2 separate regions of the Homo sapiens genome follow, and region 1 is linked to region 2. The links come from fine-mapping of genetic effects on gene expression. Tissue or cell type: lung. Region 2 holds a variant in brackets; the other region holds the start of a gene. All regions are shown on one strand. Distances are from middle to middle.

Region 1 (10,935 bases), 85 kb before region 2:
CAAAAAAGAAAAAGTACACCTACAGAAGACTGAAAAAAAAATACAAGGAGCAAAATGATCTTCCAATTATAAATGTGTTTCAATGCCCAAATATTGCTATATTTTAAAAAATGCCAGAATAGCTGTATTAGTCTGTTTTCATGCTGTTGATAAAGACATACCTGAGACTGGGAAGAAAAAGAGGTTTAACTGGGCTTACATTCCACATGGCTGGGGAGACCTCAGAATCATGGAGGGAGGTGAAAGACACTTACATGGCACTTACATGGCACTTACATGACAGTGGCAAGAGAAAATGAGGAGGATGCAAAAGGGGAAACCCCTGATAAAACCATCAGATCTCATGAGACTTATTTGCTACCATGAGAACAGTATGGGGGAAACTGCCCCCAGGATTTAAATTATCTCTTACTAAGTCCCTCTCACAACACATGGGAATTATAGGAGTACAATTCAAGATGAGATTTGGGTGGGGACACGGAGCCAAACCATATCATTCCACCCCTGGCCCCTCCAAATCTTATGTCCTCACATTTCAAAACCAATCATGCTTTCCCAACAGTCCCCCGAAGTCTTAACTCATTTCAGCATTAACCCAAAAGCCCACAGTCCAAGGTCTCATCTGAGACAAAGCAAGTCCCTTCCACCTATGAGCCTGTAAAATCAAAAGCAAGCTAGTTACTTCCTAGATACAATGGGGTACATGTATTGGGTAAATACACCCGTTTCTAAATGGGAGAAAGCTGCCAAGGTTTGGGGTTTGCACCCTCTGAAACAATCAGCTGAGCTGTACGTTGGCCCCTTTTGGCAATGGCTGGAGCAGCTGGGATGCAGGGCACCAAGTCCCTAGGCTGCATACAGAATGGGGACCCTAGGCCTGGCCTATGAAACCATTTTTCCCTCCCAGGTTTCCAGGTCTGTGATGGGCAGGGCTGCCATGGAGACCTATGACATGTCCTGGAGACATTTTTCCCTTTGTCTTGGGGATTAACATTTGACTCCTTGTTACTTATGCAAATTCCTGCAGCCAGCTTGAACTTTTCCTCAAAAAACGGGTTTTTCTTTTCTACTGCATTGTCAGGCTGCAAATTTTCTGAACTTTTATACTCTGTTTCCTTTTTAAAATTGAATGCCTTTAACAGCACCCAAGTCACCTTTCAAATGCTTTGCTACTTAGAAATTTCTTCTGCCAGATACCCTAAAATCATCTCTCTCAAATTCATAGTTCCACAAATCTCTAGGGCGGGGCAAAATGCCGCCAGTCTTTTTGCTAAAACATAACAAGAGTCACCTTTACTCCAGTTCCCAACAAGTTCCTCATCTCCATCTGAGACCACCTCAGCTTGGACTTGATTGTTCATGTCATTATCAGCAATTCTGTCAAAGCCATTTAACAAGTCTCTAGGAGATTCCAAACTTTTCCACATTTTCCTCTCTTTTTCTGAGCTCTCCAAAGTGTTCCAATCTCTGACTGATACCCAGTTCCAAAGTCGCTTCCATATTTTTGGGTATCTTTTCAGCAATGCCCACTCTACTGGTACCAATTTACTGTATTTGTCTATTTTCACGCTGCTGATAAAGACATGCCCGAGACTGGGAAGAAAAAGAGGTTTAACTGGACTTACAGTTGTTCCACATGGCTGAGGAGGCCTCAGAATCATGATGAGAGGCTAAAGGTCCTTCTTACATGGCGGTGGCAAGAGAAAATGAGGAGCATGCAAAAGCGGCAACCCTTGATAAAACTATCAGATCCCACGAGACTTATTCACTATCATGAGAACAGTACGGCGTATATTACTGCCTTGATTCAAATTGTCTCCCACCGGGTCCCTCCTGCAACCCATGGGAATTATAGGAGTACAATTCAAGATGAGATTTGGGTGGGAACACAGAGCCAAACCATATCAATAGCATTTCCTATAATACATTATTCTTCTAATTTTCTTAAGTTTATAGTAAAAAAAATTCACTTGGACAATTTCAAGACACACCAGAGAATCAAAATATCATCAATGTGGTAGTTTCCAATTGGTTGCCCTGAGCACATTACTTTGTATAGTTTGTATCCATAATGGCACACAGTATTAGCTGAGTAGGTTTTTTCTTATTTATTTATTTTTAATGTACTATTTGTTCTCTCCTAAACTTTTATCTGAGTATTTGGAAGCCAAATGACTAAGATTTTCACAAAAGGTAAAATAGAGGCACATAGCTTTCTTTTAAGTAAAATGTTACTTTACCCTCTAACCTCCAGCATCCCAGGACTAACAATCGATTGCTATTTTTTTTCTTTTTTCAGTGTCTTGATTTTTAGTCTGTTAATGATATGTAAATATTTCAGATTTTCTGTCATCCAAATAATACAGTTAGACTGTAACTATAAATATTAACTTGGAACATTACAAATAAAATTAATAGAATCATTTTAATAGGAGATGATAAGGTCTAAAATATAAACCAGATCTCTCTCTCTATCTCTATCTGTATAAACTAATAATGTAGCAATATTACTTTCTTATTTAGCAAAGTAATTACAAAAGTTCGTGCTAAATTATGATTTCATAAACAAACACATACCACAGGAGTGCAAGCATGGATGGAAAAAAACATGCTTAATTTCCTAGATTTAATAGCTTTTAATGCAACTCCACACCTATTTGTTGAAATGTGGCTATTTTGAAGGTCCCGTGCTAGAGGCAGCTAAGCCACAGGGAGAGGGGAAGAGTTGAAAGAAAAACGCACAGATAATCGTATAGCGGGTCAGGTTATAGTAAGCATTCCAGGCAAAATACTCACATGGGTTATGAAGGGTTCAAACAAAGGGGTTCAAAGGAAGAAGACATCATAAGAAGCTGGAAAAACCAAGAAATCTAATGGAGGATATGTAATTTGAGATGGGTCTGGAAGGATGAGTAGGATTTTGAAGACAGAGACAAACAGTATGACTTTTATTTCAACTGCTATTCTTCAGGTTTCAGTAGTCATTGTATTTCATTTGATGTTACAAGTTTTGGTAATTTCTTCCTTCATTTCTAGCTTCTTAAATAAACCCTCTGCTACATGACCTCTACTGAGCATTAATCATGCCAAATTAATCACTATTTTCTGGATAAGCCAAATATTCTAAAAAATCCCTATGCCTCTACTCATACTATTCTCTCTGCTTGCTTCACCTTTGCTCTTTTCCCTAAAGTAGGCTGCGAACGAATATAGAAGGCTTGGTTCATTTTCAATGTCTTCCTTGACCCCCACCTCGAAGAAGTATGTGTACCTCACAGGTATTTCCAAATCCCTCTGTATGTTCTTTGATTATTGTCTCTCACATCGTATCCATTTATCAAGGAACAAGCTTGTTCCTCCACACAGAGCGGTTCTTAAGTAAGGGCAGGAGAAGCCATATGGTTATCCTCCGGCCCAGGCTGTCAGGTGGTTGGTATTCGGTCTGTATATACTCTGATGCAATCAGTTTTTGAAGGAAAGAACGGTAAGCGCAAATAGAACCATAGCTTGTGTAGCAGGGTTCATGTAAGCAGTGGTTCTTACTGAAAAACAGACCCTGTTCTCTCGGGCTCACTTCTTCCTCCGTGTGAACCACTAATAGGAGGGGACCGAAGGCTGAGGCCAGGCCACCTGGAAGCCCACAACGCTGCTAGTAGCAGCGACAGCAGTAACAGCAACTCACCACTGTAAAATCCTCAGTGCGTTTCCATGTGCTTTCCCTGTCATCTAAATGCTTCTCTTCAGCGGCCTAAGGTGGCCCTTCTTTTTCCCCGAGTTCAGGGAAACACCTCCCTTCTTTCAGAATGTGAGAAAAAAATGGGATTTTCCTGGGGCTGAGAGTGGGGATTCCCTTTCCAGAAACGTGCAATTTTTTCATCCCGCCCACCTGGACTGAAGGCAATCAAAGCGAGGGAGCTCGTGGCATAGTGGAACACTCCAAGCACCCTGGCCCCCCTCCTCCCAGAGAAGGGTCTGGAGCCCCGCAATCCGCTAATTAGCTCGCCCCCATTGGTTGTCCCCAAGGCACCCCCGTGCCGTCACTGTGCTATGCTAATGAGGGGGAGTCTCATTGGCTGGGCCTCCAGCTCCATCTCCACAGGGAGATTGCGGGGAGAGCCGGGTTGGCCGCGTCTGGGGCCGAAACCCACCGCCCCCGATTCCCGCCAGCTCAGGGCTGTGCCGGATGCAAGCCCGCCCGAGGGAACAGTAGCCGGGAGGCTGCCCTCTGGGAGGATCTGGCAACTGCCTTTAAGGAAAGTGCTTCACCATCAAGCGGCGCTCACTCCCACCCCTCTCCCCTCTTTCTAGGCACCGCGCGTCTTTTTCGGCGAAGTAACTTTTTATACCCGCCTCCCCCTAGTCCTGGGGACCAGAGGCGGTGCCGAGCCTGGGGGCGGTTCCTTGGCAGCGTTGATTCTTGTCAGAGCCAGACTTTTGCTCCTGGGTTGGGTTTGCATCATCCCCATTACACCCTCGGGAAAGAGGAGCCAGCCCCCTTTCAAGCCTTAGCTTCCGGCTCCAAGCGGACCCCCTCCCCCTCCCTGTCCCCTTCCCCTTCTCCCATCCCTCTCTCGGCCACAGCGTCTTGTTAGTCCTCTCCCTGTACTCCGCAATATTTTCTTTCTTTCTCCCTCCTCTCCTCCATTTGTTGTTTGATGTTTCCCACTCTTTGAGGAAGGATGGTTGATTTGGAGAGCGAAGTGCCCCCTCTGCCTCCCAGGTACAGGTTTCGAGATTTGCTGCTAGGGGACCAAGGATGGCAAAACGACGACAGGTGAGTGGTGTGGTGGAGGATTGTTCTGTAAATATTGCTGAAAAAGAGACGGAAATGGGAGGGCCGAAGTGGGGAAAGGAGGGAGAAAAGGAAAACGGAGCCAGAGAGGGAGACTAGGCTGGGGGAGGGAGTAAAAGAGACTCTGATTTGTCTCTCCATTTTGACTCTATATAACTGTTGCTATAGATAAGGAACTCTTTTTCTTTACACTTTTCTTATTCTTGCAAGGTATTTATTGCATTCATTTGGTGCTTATTCTTTTGTCTATCTGTGCTTTTCTAGGATGTGTATAAGGCTGGTATCAGAGGTACAATACACCCAAATGGTATGCAATATCATTTCCAGAAAATTTGCATTTTTTCCTTAGGTGTGGTTAATCAAACTCAAAATTGCATGCAAGTTGTTTGAAAAAGCACATTAGAAACTTAAAATCTCCTGAGTCTATTTACCTCCTCCTTGTCTGTGTTGTCTTGAGTAGGTATCTACTTGGCACTGGAAATTTTATGCTGTTTAAACATTTTGGAGTTTTAAGTAGACAATTGGTTTAAATATGTAACAGGTAGTTAGTGAAAATGACAACCTTTTTAATACAATATACTCACTTTGAACAGGTGACTCTGACCATTATGAATAATGATGTTTGTATAACATGATACAACCTTTTCATAACTAGTATATTTTTTTAACTGAAACAGAATATATGTCTCAAAATTAAAATTAAGTTTCAAAACTAGAATATTTATTGTTAGCAAAATATTGTTCATGTGTTTTATTTATAGCATTACTGCTTTGCACAAACTTCTGAAATTCCTCTGTCTATTTCTGTCTCAAGCACATTTTGTATTTCAGCGAATTTAGTATTTTCTGGAATAGTCATCCCATATATCACATGCCACATTTCTTTGTTTTAAAATAATACATGTATACTAACTAGGTTCTCAACTCAATTGAAATGTTTCATTGAAGTTTAGTTTAGTATTGATGTGCTATTTTAGTTATATAAAAGATCCATTATTGGTCCAATCCAAAATCCCCTCCTCATTCACCACTGACCAATACACTCTATTTCTTTTCTTCACCTTTTCAGCTCCCAATACCAACTCCTGTCTCTACACACTGAGGATTTTATCTTGAGCATCAATTATGGGCATCTTGTTTGGTCTCATATTAGTAATTTGAAAGGAGATGGATGTTTTGTAGAGGATATTTTGGTTCAATCTCTTTTTTAGGCAAAACCACACATATTGGCTAAAAATTTAAAGAAGTAATACCAATTTCTCAGTATTCTTGTAAAGTGTTTGGGTAAACTGAAGATAAAGAAAATAATTTTTAAGTGAATTTGTAATACAAATTGACATTTAGATAAACTGCATTAGCCTGGTTAAATGGCTTAGTAAGTGTAGCATGGTGTTCCTAGTGACTGAATGTATATTTAGTTCAGGACCTCAGGATCATTATATAGAATAGAAATCCTCTTTGTAGAAAGTGTGAGATAGATTAAACACATAAAGCACATACTTTGGTTATAGTGATGGTATTGTTGTTTGTTTGTTTTAAATATCATATCCAATATGTTAATTTTCATGTGGTTGCCCTCATTTTTCTAAGGATGCTGCAGAAATATTTTAGTAATTAAGAATTTTGGTTAGTTGAACACTGCCTAAATGGATCAGTGCCATATTAAAAAAGTTTTGCAGAATGGTTAAAATTTTATGTTCTATTAAAAGGTTATGCTAGCCCAACTTTAACTTAAAAAGCAGGCCACATTTACTACTAAAATAAGTTATTAAATATTTAAAACAATCATTCAACCATTTTTAAGGATTTGGCTACTTTTGTGGCTTCATGGAAAACTATTCTTTGGTTTTGGTTCCATTTGTTGTTAATCTTTGAAGGCAAGATACTTGGAATCAGAGAAACCCAGATTCAGTCCTTGGCTGTTTCCTTCACTAGCTGAGTGGCCTTGGGAAAGTCATTCAGCCATTATGAGATTCAGCAATATTATTTTTTATAATGGGAATTATACTGTCTACCTTATAAAACTGTGACAAGAGGAAGGATGGAGAGGCGCAGAACTAACATTTAGTTGGAAATAAGTACTCCCAAGTTCTTTTAACTGTGCGGTATGTTCTTTCTTAGTTAATCCTCAGACAAACTCTGAATAGCAGGCAATTATGTTAGGCACAAGGAAACTGAAATTTTGGTAAATTAAATACGTGTCTTGGATATTATATCTTATCAGTGTAAAGATAACTCTTCAGTTCAGTTTATTATTATTCAAATCCCTCAAGAAATTCTTAAGTTCTTTTCACTTAATTTATTTGAACTTATAAGAATAATTTACAGCACCTAGCATAGTTTAGGTGCTCATTAAATATTAGTTCCCTTCTTCACTTCTGATTTGCCCTTTGCAATCCTTTTTTTCTCCCTTTTCAGACTCCTAAGCTAATATGTGGTAGGTAAAGTCATCTTCCTTGTCTATAATATGGTGACAAATTCCTCTTTGCAATTACGCCTGGATAGCAATCTCATTCTACTCAGTTATCTTCTTGGACTCAATTCTTATAGAGTTGAGGAGGAAGCCCTCTTTCATGTAGGAGTAGGTAGATCATTTCCAACAACAGATACATTTAGTGCTCTGCCCATATTCTCAAAGCAACTTTCTTTGAACACCTCCTGCATGAGGTTTTCTCCCCACCACCAACCTCAGGTGCATCCAAGTCCTGCTTGGAGAACAAGCTGGAGTGTCACTGAGTAAATAGGCTGTTTCTGAATCAATACTTTTGCTTCCTTGCTCCTTAGCTTGGAGAATTCTGAAGCATGTTCTACACTGTGTCCAAAGGGACTGAGCTCCACTTGCCCGCAGTGATAACTGGCTTAATACTGAAAGCTTTATTGGCTTCTGTCTCTCTTCTCCCCTACTGGTATTTTATCTGTGATCAATTCCCAAATGAACTGCTTTTGCTGCAATCCTATCTCAAGCTTACCTTCTGGGAGAATCTGCATCAAGATAGCTGTTTTCTGGATGTAGAGAGCCACATCCTTGTAATGATGGGGGAATTGTGTTCCAAATGTAGGAGTATAAACACTTTCTACCTTGTTCCTCACTGTAAGAATTTCAAACTCCATCTTAGGTCATAGTTGACTGGCACATGAAAATGAATGAAGCATATGATAGATGCTCAAATGGGTGTTGTTAAAGACATAATATTGATGGGCCTATTAGGTGTAGGAAATGTGTATTCCATACCATAGATTTTCTGTGAATCAACTTTGGATAAGTAGGTCATCTAAATTTATATTGTGCCACCTTTTGTGTAGGTAAAAACACATACACATACACTGGCATAATGTACATGTAATGTATATAGTGTATATGTAACAGATATGCATTGCTTTTGTAATATATGTATTATAAAATATTGTATATTGTATGCTAAAATTGTATATTATGTAATGCATCATATATTACAAATATGTGATTAATAATATATATTATAATATATGTAATGAATAGATATGTCTTTGTATTATCTTTACGCCATCCTTAGATAATTGCTTCTCTCTCATTTGCACTCTGATATCCTTTTCTGAGTAGGACATATGGGAATAGGGTTAGACACAGCAGTGCAGAGAATTTAGCACATGGATAACACTACTTCTGTGAGGCCATGAAATAAATTTGAGTTGCTAAATGAGAATATTGCTTATGTGTAGGGATGTCTTTTGTATATATGATGCACACTTACTTGTTTGACATCCTGAGCAAAAAACAAAAATCTAATTCAAGTGGTTTGTATGATATGTCTTTAATGGCCATTCATTCATTCAGCTAATATTTGAATGTTTGCTATGTCTCAGGGCCCCATTAAGTTAGGTTTTGGGACAAATACGGAAAAGAATATGAAATAGCGCTCAGTCTGGAGGGGGTCACAGATATGATAAGAGGTTAATTCACCTCAGAATATTGACAGTATTGTTTATGTTATGATGATGTCCTTATAGAATTTCCATTTTAATACTGTCAAGAAGATTCTGCACCATTTGTAGAAAGGATATTCAGCATTTGCTTGAAAATAAAGTAGTTGAAATCACATATTAGAGATAGCTCAAGGCATTCAACATTCAATATTCAACTTCTGGCACCAAGCCATCTTCCTGCCTTGGACTCCCAAAGTGCTGGGATTATAGGTGGGAGCCACTGCTCCAAGCCTGTTTTCTGTTTTAATATTTCTATGATTCACAAAGCAGTAAAGATTTAGAGTATTCTCCTGCAGTTAAACACTGATAAGTTACAGGTTTTAAAAGTCATCAGCCAGTTATACAAGTCTTCTCCTGTTTCATCATGATTTAGTAATTTTAAACTTTGGAACACAACACACTTAATGTGAATAAATTGTCACAATTCCAACTACTGTTAATGGAAAATCCTCAGTTGTAGCCATAGAAGAGAAGGTCATTTATTTAAGACCATTCTAGTTTTCAAAAATCAGGTCACTTGTTTCAAATCCAATAATCATGCATACCTTTTGTATTTTATAGGTGGCCTTTAGAAGTAATTCAAGGAAGTCAACTAATGCATTGTAGTTGTTAAAACATTAAAGGATTTGAACATAGTACAAGTCAATCCATTAACAGTTTAAGAGGTATTTACAAAAATAGAAAAATATTTCCACAGCATTTGGAATATGTGTAATTTTAGATATACACTGCAAAATATATTGCTTTACATAATCAAATTCAATTGTGAGAATGGGTTTTGTATTGACATATTAAACATTTTATAAATTACTAACTTTATCTCCATTATAAATTATATATTGTTTTGAAAAACAGCCATTTATTATAAAATATTTATTCTAAATTTTAAGTTCAGGTTAGTAAAGACAATTTTAAATTTTTGAGCGCCATTAAAATGAATGACACATTATTTTTACTCTTTAATCGATAGTGGCATCAACTATGCATATACAATATCTACAAAAATGATTTAAGCATTTACTTTAGAAAGAGAGTTTAGACAATCCTGTGTTTCTTATCAATATCGACTTTATTAAGAAAAATATCCACAAATAAGGCAATAGAAAATTAGAAACTTAAACAGATAATGGTATAAAAAATAGACTTTGGGCCGGGCGCGGTGGCTCACGCCTGTAATCCCAGCACTTTGGGAGGCCGAGGCGGGTGGATCATGAGGTCAGGAGATCGAGACCATCCTGGCTAACAAGGTGAAACCCCGTCTCTACTAAAAATACAAAAAATTAGCCGGGCGCGGTGGCGGGCGCCTGTAGTCCCAGCTACTCGGGAGGCTGAGGCAGGAGAATGGCGTGAACCTGGGAGGCGGAGCTTGCAGTGAGCCGAGATTGCGCCACTGCAGTCCGCAGTCCGGCCTGGGCGACAGAGCGAGACTCCGTCTCAAAAAAAAAAAAAAAAAAAAAAAAAAATAGACTTTGAATATATATAGTGTAATACATAAAATGCAGAGAAAAATGTATTATTTAATAATTATTGTTTTTCAATCACTACTAAGAATTCAGACATCAATATTTTATATAAAACACACAAGGTTCTTTTCTTTTAACCAATTCTTATAAATAAAATTGAAATGTGACTTTTCAAATTACTGATACTTTATTTTTAAAGTTTGATTTAATTTAACAGCTATCATATAGCCACTTTCTGCATTTGGTTATGTATTAGTAGTACTTCTGTGAGTGACTTAATCATTTCCCTGGGGCTCCACTGAATACTGTCACATTCGGTATTATGTTCCAATATATGAATTTCATGGGGACACCAACATTGAGATCACAGCAATTGATCCTTTTGTCATTGATGGTTCATCTGTTTTTATTAATTTATGTATTGCCTATGTCATATTATTTATTATGCACCATGCTTGTCTAAGTTGTCTTTAGAAAATAAAGCAAAAAGCAATATTTTTTACAGTAAAACGGTAACCAGTTGCTTTATATACTTACAATTTGAAATTAAGTTCACTTGGCCTTTTTCTGAGCAATATTTAATGTTTAGCGGTATCCTTCATTGAGATGTCTTTTTCTGAGTTTTAAATTTGGAATTAAAATTTTCTCTGCAAAAGCAATCAAAACAATAAATAATTATCCAGAAAGACAATTATTTTTAATCTTTCACAATCCTTG
Region 2 (10,935 bases):
AAATTTGGTACATTAGCAGGAGCCATGATACAAGACCAGACCTATGTTCAATTCTTGCTCTGTCACTGTGTGTGAAAGGGGTGTACCTCCGTTCATAGGAATTATGTTCCTTCTTGTGCACCAGCAAGTTTGCTTCACATTAAATTATTTAAACAAATTGGAACTTTTCAAATGGTAACTTCATATTTTTATTGAAATGAAAGTTTCTGAGTAATTAAGCATATATCCTTCATATGCTAGAAATATATGCAACTTTCAAGAGCACATGCTGATTCACAAGCAGAATAATGGTTTCCTATTAATATTGTTCCCCATGAAAGAAATTTAAGCAGCTTTTAAAGTACTTGAAACTGTAAAGATAATGGCCTCATTTTCAAAAAATTTGTTAGATTATTAATATCATTCATTTTACGTTACCCTGTTTTGCTAATAAACTGTCATTACTCACACGTGAATACTTTTGAACATATTTCAGGTAATTTAACCTAACTTCATGTTAGTATGATGCATTTTTATGTCTGTGCTTCAACCTTTGTGTTACTAATACCTTATATTGGACAAACAGAAGACAAGTTACTGAAGCTTATTAATAGCTCTCATAAGTTCTATGAGGTACATCTTTTTACATTAAAATGAATAAAAGAGATAACTTGCCATTTCAAACGCTCTTTTGCTTCTTCTACAAGAAGATTTGAGATATCCTATAGAACAGTGGTCCCCAACCTTTTTGGCACCAGTGACTGGTTCCTTGGAAGACAGTTTTCCCATAGACCAGTGGGGGCACAGTTTTGGCATGAAACTGTTCTACTTCAGATCATCAGACGTTAGTTAGATTCTCATAAGGAGCACACCACATAGATCCCTTACATGCACAGTTCACAATAGAGTTTGCGATCCTGTGAGAAACTAATGTCGCTGCAGGAGGTGGAGCTCAGGTGGTAATGCTTGTTCAACTCCTGCTGTGGGCCTAACAGGTCACAGACTGGTACTAGTCTGAGGCATGGGGGTTAGGGACCACTGTTACAGAATAAACACACTGAGGAGTATGCAAAAAAGTGCTAGACACAGTCCCTGACTTTGTGTTGTTAACATTTAAGGAACAGACAAGAACACATTGGCTTATCCAAAAAAAACTACATAGTGGCCGGGCGCAGTGGATCACGCCTGTAATCCCAGCACTTTAGGAGGCCGAGGTGGGCAGATCACGAGGTGAGGAGATTGAGACCATCCTGGCCAACATGGTGAAACCCCATCTCTACTAAAAATACAAAAATTAGCTGGGTGTGGCAGCGCGTGCCTGTAATCCCAGCTACTTGGGAGGCTGAGGAGGAGAATCGCTTGAACCTGGGAGGCGGAGGTTGTAGTGAGCCGAGATCGTGCCACTGCACTCCAGCCTGGCGACAAAGCAAGACTCCATCTCAAAAAAAAAAACCAAACAAAAAACCTACATGGTAAGGTTCTAAGACTCAGAGCGAGTAATACTGTATGTATGTAAATTATATATGTATAATTTATGTATACAATAATGTAACATATAACATTTGAATGGACTGTGTATGTGTGCATTTATATTTTATATGATTTATATATTATAATTTATAAAATATAAGCATTGAAATTGTATGTATGTTTATATATATCATAGCATATATAAATTATACATGAACATTTTTTATGTAATTATATGTGTAAAGTTTCACTCACACTGAGCCTTAAGACCCTACCTTGTAGTTTTATTTGGATGATCCAATGCATTCTTGTCTGTTCCTCAAATGTTAACACAAAGTCAGGGACTGTGTCTAGCACTTTTTTGCGTACCCCTCAGTGTGCTGATTCACACACACACACACACACACACACACACACACACACACACAGAGTCAGTTCTCATTATTTGTGCTATTTATGTTCTATAAAGTTGCCATCAACTCTGCATTAGTGAATACTAAACTACTACTTCTAAACCTTTGGTCACATTTTTTGTCAAGTGTTCAATACATAACCTTGTTTTATGTATATGTCTGTTTAAAGACACCTTTTAAAATGTATATTTATATTACATAATTAAATATGTACAGTATTTCATTATAATAAAACGCTAGCTAAGAAAGTTTTCACACTTCTTGATTCTGGCCAACATGGCTGTAAACAGTAATGTAAACTTTTTTGGCTTTCAGCCTCGTAACAGTACTGCCTACTGTGCTTTTTTTGTTGTTTTAAAATCAGTTATCACCTCATGAATTCACAAATTTAGCTACCTTCCCATCTTTTCTATAGCCTCATTATGCACAATAAATGTTAGTTTAGCACTTTCTAGAGCAGGCCCATATACAGATTGGTGATTATCTGGATGAACATTGAACTCACAGACAGCAGCCCTATAACTCATGATTGAAGAAAGCTCATCTAACACATATATTTCTCTGTAAGGTATATCACAGCCTTCTTGCACTTAGTAACAGTAGCAGAAACTCAACGTTACATGTAAGAGCTATTAAACAGGGAAATTACGAACAAAAAGCATAAAAATACAAAAAAAAGTGTCACTGTTAAGACCATGAAAAAGACACTTGTTTACAGTATGAGAGCTGAAACGAGAAGGCAGAGCATGGCCTGGGTCAACTCCATCTGGGAATTTGCTGTGCAGACAACTGATTTTTTTTTTTATTTGCTTTACGTAAATCTACAAATAACTGTGAAAATACTACCATTGTGGTCGTTTTCTACCTGTTCCCTCACTTTCTTCGACAATCAAAAACCACTGAATAGCTACTTTTTTTGTGATATTAGCTATCCTTGTAAATGACATTGACATCTAATCTGATGCTTGAGCTAGAATCTCAAAGTCAAATTTGACTTGTTCTTTGCAAAGATCTCCAAAATACAACAAATCACCAGATTTCTTCCTTTTCTCTACTTCAACCATAGCAATATAAAATAGATGAGAAATTGAAGATTCTATAATACTCATTGTATTTATAAAAGTCAAAACCTAGTGATTTATTAAATTAATATTTTTTAAGCTAGAAGACAGTTTATGGAACATAAATTAGATCTAAATTGATTGACTTTCCTATTTGTTGCTAGAAATAGAAGTAAAATGAAAATTTGATAGCTTGGGACTACAATAGGTAGATAACCCAAATATTACATTTAATAACACCACTATCAATATTATTTTTTGATAATGATATCCGGGATATAGGAAAATGAAGATTTTCCTTAACACAAAATATATCTTATTATATATGACTTTAGTGTGAACTTCACTGTTTTACATCGTATTATGTAATATGTCTTGTATTTACATTTGAAACATGGACATTAAATGATACAGCATGATGTTGATAACCTCACTCATTGTATTTAGTGAAATATGGAAAATTATTATGTAATATGGCATTAGTGATAATTATTTACTTGCCATCCTCTTTAGTGGACATGTTATTTTATACCACTGGACATCCATTGTCTCATTTTTGGTAACAATTCCTGATTCCTCTCTGGAAAACCACTTTTTTTCCCCCCTTATTCTCAGTCCGTGGACCTTTGTACCCTTCTCCACCCCATTCTCATTCAAACTCCCAATAAGAATGTGTGAACCTGAAATAATCAAAATGATCAGAATCCAGTTCTAAAGAATTTACTCAAGTGTGAAATTTAAGGATGGCTGCCCAGGAAACACAGACTCCAAATGAATGGGGTCAGTGTTCTGAAGTGGAGAACTAGGATTTTACCTTTATAGGTAGAAACAAAGAAATTTAGTAGGATTACAACATTTTCATATAAAGCTGGTTTATGAATTACAATTTGATTAGTTACAGCTTGTTCGTTTTTGGGAAAGGTATACTTAACAGTTCATCTTGAGCAACTTGATAATCATAGAGTCTTTGTGCTATCTGATCTGTGTCAGGTGCAAGAGAAAAAAGGAGGAAGTTAACCTATAATGAGGGTCAACAAGTAAGAGGGAAGAGAGCTTATCTCTGGTGTCATTTAATCTTTTGCAACATTTTACAAAACAAAGTAGGTAAGGAAAAAGTTAATCTATAATTAGAGAAACAATCACATTTTCTTTAAGACTCAAAATAATTGAAAGTTCCAACAGCTTTAATTTGAATCGCTTATTTTCACAAACGTTACCAGGCTAAGTCAGTTAAGGAACTTTATATCCTCTGACCTCAGTTTTTAATTTAAAGGTAGATGCATGGCTCTATCAGATGCTTTGAGACCCAATAGAAGTTTTTCTTGAAATTCTGGTCTAGACTCTCTTTCTTTCTGGACTCAACAAGAATAAATACAATTTCTGGAGCAGTTGCAGACATCTTGCCACCATGAAGGAAAATCTGCTTCTGAATGAACCAAGGGAATTGTAACTGGAGATGGAGAAAAATAAAGTAGCGGTGAATAGATGGGCTCCTGCTTCAATCCATGTCTGTAGGTGTCACCAGTCTACACTTTTCATTTTTGAGAGGCTTTAAATTCCTTCTTAATTTAAGCTAGTGTGTCCGGAATTGGTTCCTTCCAGTGGGTTCTTGGTCTTGCTGACTTCAAGAATGAAGCCACAGACCCTCATGGTGAGTGTTACCGTTCTTAAAGATGGTGTGTCCTGAGTTTGTTCCTTCAGATGTTCAGATGTGTCTGGAGTTTCTTCCTTCCGGTGGGTTCGTGGTCTTGCTAACTTCAGGAGTGAAGCCACAGACCTTTGCAGTGTGTGTTATAGCTCTTAAAGGTGGTGCGTCCAGAGTTGTTTGTTCCTCCTGGTGGTTTCGTGGTCTTGCTGACTTCAGGAGTGAAGCTGCAGGCCTTCGCAGTGTTACAGCTCAAAAAGGTAGTGTGGACCCAAAGAGTGAGCAGCGGCAAGGTTTATTGTGAAGAGCAAAAGAACAAAACTTTCACAGCATGGAAGGGGACCCAAGTGGGTTGCCACACTGGCTTGGGTGGCCAGCTTTTATTCCTTTATTTGTCCCTGCCCACATCCTGCTGATTGGTGCATTTTACAGAGCACTGATTGGTCCATTTTACAGAGTGCTGATTGGTCCATTTTACAGAGTGCTGATTGGTGCATTTACAATCCTTTACCTAGACACAACATGCTGATTAGTGCGTTTTTTACAGAGTGCTGATTGGTGCATTTACAATCCTTTAGCTAGACACATAGTGCTGATTGCTGCGTTTTTACAGAGTGCTGACTGGTGCATTCACAATCCTTTAGCTAGACACAGAGCACTGATTGGTGCGTTTACAGTCCTCTAGCTAGACAGAAAAGTTCTCTAAGTCCCCACTCGACCCAGGAAGTCCCGCTGGCTTCACCTCTCACTAGTATGAGTAGCTTATTTTTCTCAATTGCAAACTAAGGAGTATGAAGTCATATTAAACCCAATGAATAAAACAGTTCAGGCATCTGAAAATTATTTTAAGAGTTGAAGCATAAAAATGTAAGGTTTAATGACTTATTTTCCACAGATTTTACTATTTGTATTAGAACATCATTTTGGTAAATGTACATCTGTTCTTCATCAAAAACTGCTGGTACCTCTAGTAGTAATACTTTTCACATATGTATTATCTTCCATCACTTCTATCTAGTTTGTATTTGGCCTATAGCTCATTTATGGACACCTAAACTAAATTCATCTCAATTAATCTTTAATTTTTGTTAACATAAAGAAGTTTACAAGCAATCTAGGATACAAAAAGACAAAATTTGTAAATATGCATGCAGAAAATGAAAGCAGGTTTGGAATGGAGTTTCCCAGTATACTGACTCTTTCTGCATAAGCACATTGTTTAAATATAAGTTACAGTGATTATTATATTCTGTGGTGTATTGTTAG[A/G]CAAAACTACAAGTACTACTGGAATTTAATTAATTAATTACTTATGAATCTATTTATGAATTCCTGACATTCATCTTTATTTTATAATTTAATGTGCTTTTTAAAAACTTTTATTTTAGGTTCAGGGGTACATGTTCACTTTGTTATATAGGTAAACTTGTGTCATAGGGGTTTGTTGTACAGATTATTTTGTCACCCAGGTACTAAGGCTAGTACCCAATAGTTGTTTTTTCTGATCCTCTCCCTCCTCCCAACCTTCACCTTCAAGTAGGCCCTAGTGTCTATTGTTTCCCTCTTTGTGTCCATGTGTTCTCATCATTTAGCTCCCACTTGTGAGAACATATGGTTTTTGGTATTCTGTTTCTATGTTGGTTTGCTAAGGATGATGCCGTCCAGCTCCATTCATGTTCCTCCAAAGGACATCATCTCATTCTTTTTTATGGCTGAGTAGTATTCCATGGTGTATATATACCACATTTTCTTTTTTCAGTCTACCATTGATGGACATTTATGTTGATTCCATGCCTTTGCTATTGTGAATATTGCTGCAAAGAATATGTGGGTGCATGTATCTCCATGGTAGAATGATTTATATTCTTTTAGGGTATACACCCAGTAATGGGATTGTTGGGTCAAATGGTGGTACTGTTTTTAGCTCTTTGAGGAATCAACAAACTGCTTTCCACAATGGTTAAACTAACTTACACTCCCACCATCAATGTATAAGCGTTCTCTTTTCTCCACAACCTCACCAGCATCTGTTATTTTTTGACTTCTTAAAAATAATAGCCATTCTTACTGGTGTGAGATGGTATATCATTGTGGTTTTGATTTGCTTTTCTCTAATGATCAGTGATGTTGAGCTATTTTTTATATGATTGTTGGTTGCATGTATATCTTCTTTTGAAAAGTTGATGTTTATGTCATTTGCCCACTTTTTAATGGGGCTACTTGTTTTCTTTTTTCTAGTAAATTTATTACATTCCCTATAGATATTAGACTTTTTCAGATGTATAGTTAGCAAATATTTTCTCCCATTCTGTAGAATGTCTGTTTACTCTGTTGATAGTTTATTTTGCTGAGCAGAAGCTCTTAAGTTTAATTAGATCCAATTTGTCAATTTTTGCTTTTGTTGTGATTGCTTTTGGTGTCTTTGTCATGAAATCTTTGCCCATTCCTATGTCCTAAATGGTATTACCTAGGTTGTCTTTCAGGGCTTTTATAGTTTTGGGTTTTACATTTAACTCTTTGATCCATCTTGAGTTGATTTTTGCATATGGTGTAAGAAATGTGTCCAGTTTCAATCTTCTGCATATGGCTAGCCAGTTATTCCAGTGCCATTTATTGAATAGGGAGTCCTTTCCCCATTGCATGCTTTTGTCAGCTTTGTCAAAGATCAGATGGTTGTAGGTGTTCACCATTATTTCTGGGTTCTCTACCATGTTTCATTGGTCTGTGTGTCTGTTTTCATGCCAGTACCATGCTTTGGGTTGAGACTGTGGAGTTTTTTAGATAGAGAATCATGTCATCTACAAACAGGGATAGTTTGACTTCCTGTCTTCCTATTTAGATGCCCTTTATTTCTTTCTTGGGCCTGATTGCTCTGGCCAGGACTTTCAATATTATGTTAAATAGGAGTGGTGAGAGAGGACATCTTTCTCTTGTGCCAATTTTCAAGTATAATGCTTCTAGCTTTTGCCTATTCAGTATGATATTGGCTGTGAGCTTGTCATATATAGCTCTTATTATTTTGTGATATGGTTTTTCAATACCTGGTTTCTGAGAGTTTTTAAAATCAAGGGATGTTGAATTTTATCAAAAGCCTTTTCTGCATCTATTGAGATGATCATGTGGTTTTTATCTTTAGTTCTGTTTATGTGATGTATGACATTTATTGATTTACATACGTTAAACCAACCTTGAATCCCAGGGATAAAGCCTGCTTGATTGTGGTGGATTAGCTTATTGATATGCTGCTGGATTTGGTTTGCCAGTATTTTGTTGACAATTTTTGCATACATGTTCATTGAGGATATTGGCCTGAAGTTTTCTTTTTGCTGTTGTTGTTGTGCCTCTGCCAGGTTTTAGTATCGTTTCTATGATCCTGGCCTCATAGAATGAGCTAAGGAAGAATCACTTCTCTTCAATTTTTTGGAATAGTTTCAATAGGAATGGTACTAGATCTTCCTTGTACATCTGGTAGAATTCAGCTGTGAATCTTTCTGGTCTTGGGCTTTTTTTGTGTATTGGTATGCTATTTATTACTGATTTAATTTCAGAGCTCATTTTTGGTCTGTTCAGGGAATCAATTTCTTCCTGGTTCAGTCTTGGGAGGGTGTATGTGTTCAGGAATTTATCCATCTCATCTAGGTTTTCTAGTTTGTGTGCATAGAGGTGTTCGTAGTAGTCTCTGATGGTTATTTGTATTTCTGTGGGGACAGTGGTAATATCTCCTTTGTTGTTTCTGATTGTGCTTATTTGGATCTTATTTCTTTTCTATATTAGTCTAGGTATTAGCCTATCTAACTTATTATTTTTTTAAAAAAATTAACCCCCAGATTCAGTGATTTTTTTATTTGTTTTTCTTGTCTCAATCTCTTTCAGTTCAGCTCTGATTTTGATTACTTCTTGTCTTCTGCTAGCTTTGGGTTTGGTTTGCTTTTGCTGCTCTAGTTTTTCTAGTTGTGATGTTAAGGTGTTAATTTGAGATCTTTCTAACTTTTGATATCAGCGTTTAATGCTATAAATTTCCCTCTTAACACTGCCTTAGCTGTGTCTCAGAGATTCTGATATGTTGTATCTTTGTTCTCACGAGTTTCAAAAAACTTCCTGATTTCTGCCTTAATTTCATTGTTTACTCCAAAGTCATTGAGGAGCAGGTTATTTAATTTCCATGTAATTGCATGGCTTTGAGTGATTTTTTTCTTTATTCTTGATTTTAATTTTTATTGTGCTGTGTTCTGAGAGTGTGTTTGGTATGATTTTGGTTCTTTTGGATTTGCTGAGGATTTTTTTATGTTGGATTGTATGGTCAATTTTAACCTATGTGCCTTGTGGCAATGAGAAGAATGTATACTCTGTTGTTTTTGGGTAGAGAGTTCTGTAGAGGTCTATCATACCCATATGGTCCAATGTTGAGTTCAGGTCCTGAATGTCCTTGTTAATTTTCTTCCTCACTGATCTCTCTAAGACTGTCATTGGAGTGTTGATGTCTCCCGCTATTATTTTGTGGAAGTCTAAGTTTCTTTGTAGGTTTCTTTGTAAGTTTAAGAACTTGCTTTATAAACCTGGTTGCTCCTGTGTTGGTTGCATATGTATTTAGGATAGTTAGGTCTTCTTCTTGAATTGAACCCTTTACCATTATGTAATGTGCTTTTTTTTCCATCATTTTTGTTGTTTGTTAGTTTAAAATCTGTTTTATCTGAAATTAGCATTGCAACCTCTGCTTTTTTCTGATTTCTATTTGCTTGATATATTTTTCCTCCATCCCTGTATTTTGATCCTATCAGTGTCATTGCATATGAGATGGGTCTCCTGATGACAGCATACCATTGGATCTTGCTTTTTTTTTTTTTTTTTTAAATCCAGCTTGCCACTTTGTACTTTTTAAATGGTGAGATTTAGCCTGTTTCCATTCAGGATTAGTATTGATACATGTGGATTTGATCCTCTCATGTGTTTTTAACCAGTTATTATGCTGGCTTTTTTGTGTGGTTGTTTTGTAGTTTCACTGGTCTACGTACTTAGCTTTGTTTTTATTAGCTGGTAATGGTTTTGGCTTTCCAAATTTAGTGCTTCTTTCGATGTCTATTCTAAGGTGGGCTTGATGGTAACAAACTCCCTTAGCATTTGATCTGGAAAGGATCATATTTCTTCTTTTCTGAGAAAGCTTAGTTTCTCTGGATATAAAAATCTTGATTGAAGATTTTTTATTTCTTTAAGAATGTTGAATGCAAGCTGCCAATGCCTGCTGGTTAGTAGGGTTTCTGCAGAGAGGTCCACTGTTAGCCTCATGGGGTTTCCTATGTATGTGACCTGCCCTTTCTCTCTAGCTGCCTTTAATATTCTTTCATTTTGACCTTGGAAAATCTGATGATTATGTGTCTTAGGGATAATCTGCTTGTGTTTAATCTTGCAGGGGTTCTCTGTATTTCCTGAATTTGACTGTTAGCCTCTGTAGCAAGGTAGGAAACTTTTCATGGACAGTATCCTGAAATATGTTTTCCAAGTTGTTTGCTTTCTCCTGTCCCTTTCAGGGATGCCAGTGACTCATCTATTTAGCCTCTTTACATAATCCCATATTTCTTGGAGGTTTTATTTCTTTGTATTCTTTTTTTCTTTATTTTTGTCTGAGTGTCTTATTTCAGAGAGACACTCTTCAAGTTCTAAGATTCTTTCCTCAGCTTGTTCTACTCTGCTGTTAATACTTGCGATTGCATTGTGAATTTCTTGTAGTGTGTTTTTCGGCCTTTTCAGATCAGTTAGGTTCTCTCTTACACTGGCTATTTCATCTGTCACCTCCTTGTCATTTTATTGATTCTTAGTTTCCTTGGATTGCACTTTGCTGTTCTCCTGCATCTTGGTGATCTTCATTCTTATCCATATTCTGAATTCTATTTCTGTCATTTCAACCAATTAAGGCTGGTTAAGAACCCTTGTCAGAGACTAGTGCAGCTGTTTGGAGGAGATAAGACACTCTGCCCACTTGAGTTGCTCAAGTTCTTGCATTGGTTCTTTCTCATCTCTGTGTGTGGATATTGCTTTAACTGCTGGGCTCCCTCTGATTAAAGTGGTAAAGTGGGGGCAGCATGGTATTACTGGAGTCATATGTCAGGTGACCCTGCCCAGTAGGGAGAAGAGAGTACTGGGACCTGCATGGAATACCGTCTGACCACTTTTCTGTGAGGTGGGTGCTCTGTTCTGGGGGTCTGGACCAGCCTCTGGTTGCCGTGGACTCCCCAGAGTGTGGAGACAGCAAGCATGAAGGCTGTAAGCAAATACGGCAATCCCCACTCCCATTGGGAGCTCTCTCCCAGGAGTTGTAGAGCTGCTACTGGCTCCATAGTCCCAGCTGGGGGGTGGTTGGAGACTCAGGCTGGGA

Evidence for each region. PIP is the estimated chance that this variant, and not a neighbour inherited with it, causes the effect.
Region 1: it holds the start of KCNT2, and the variant in region 2 is fine-mapped to the expression of KCNT2 in lung (TOPMed, PIP 0.97).

Annotation. Positions count from the first base shown.
Region 1 is chr1:196,602,054-196,612,988 of GRCh38, reverse strand. It overlaps KCNT2 (potassium sodium-activated channel subfamily T member 2), which reads left to right and starts at 4,549. Exons shown (of 28, transcript NM_198503.5): 1 at 4,549-4,774. The coding sequence starts at 4,680. RefSeq lists an enhancer at 3,698-4,214.
Region 2 is chr1:196,516,958-196,527,892 of GRCh38, reverse strand. All of the region lies in intron 1 of KCNT2 (potassium sodium-activated channel subfamily T member 2), which reads left to right. Among named protein-coding and RNA genes, the nearest start is that of MIR4735, 60 kb to the left of the region's middle. The variant A/G (reference allele first, on the strand shown) is at 5,835.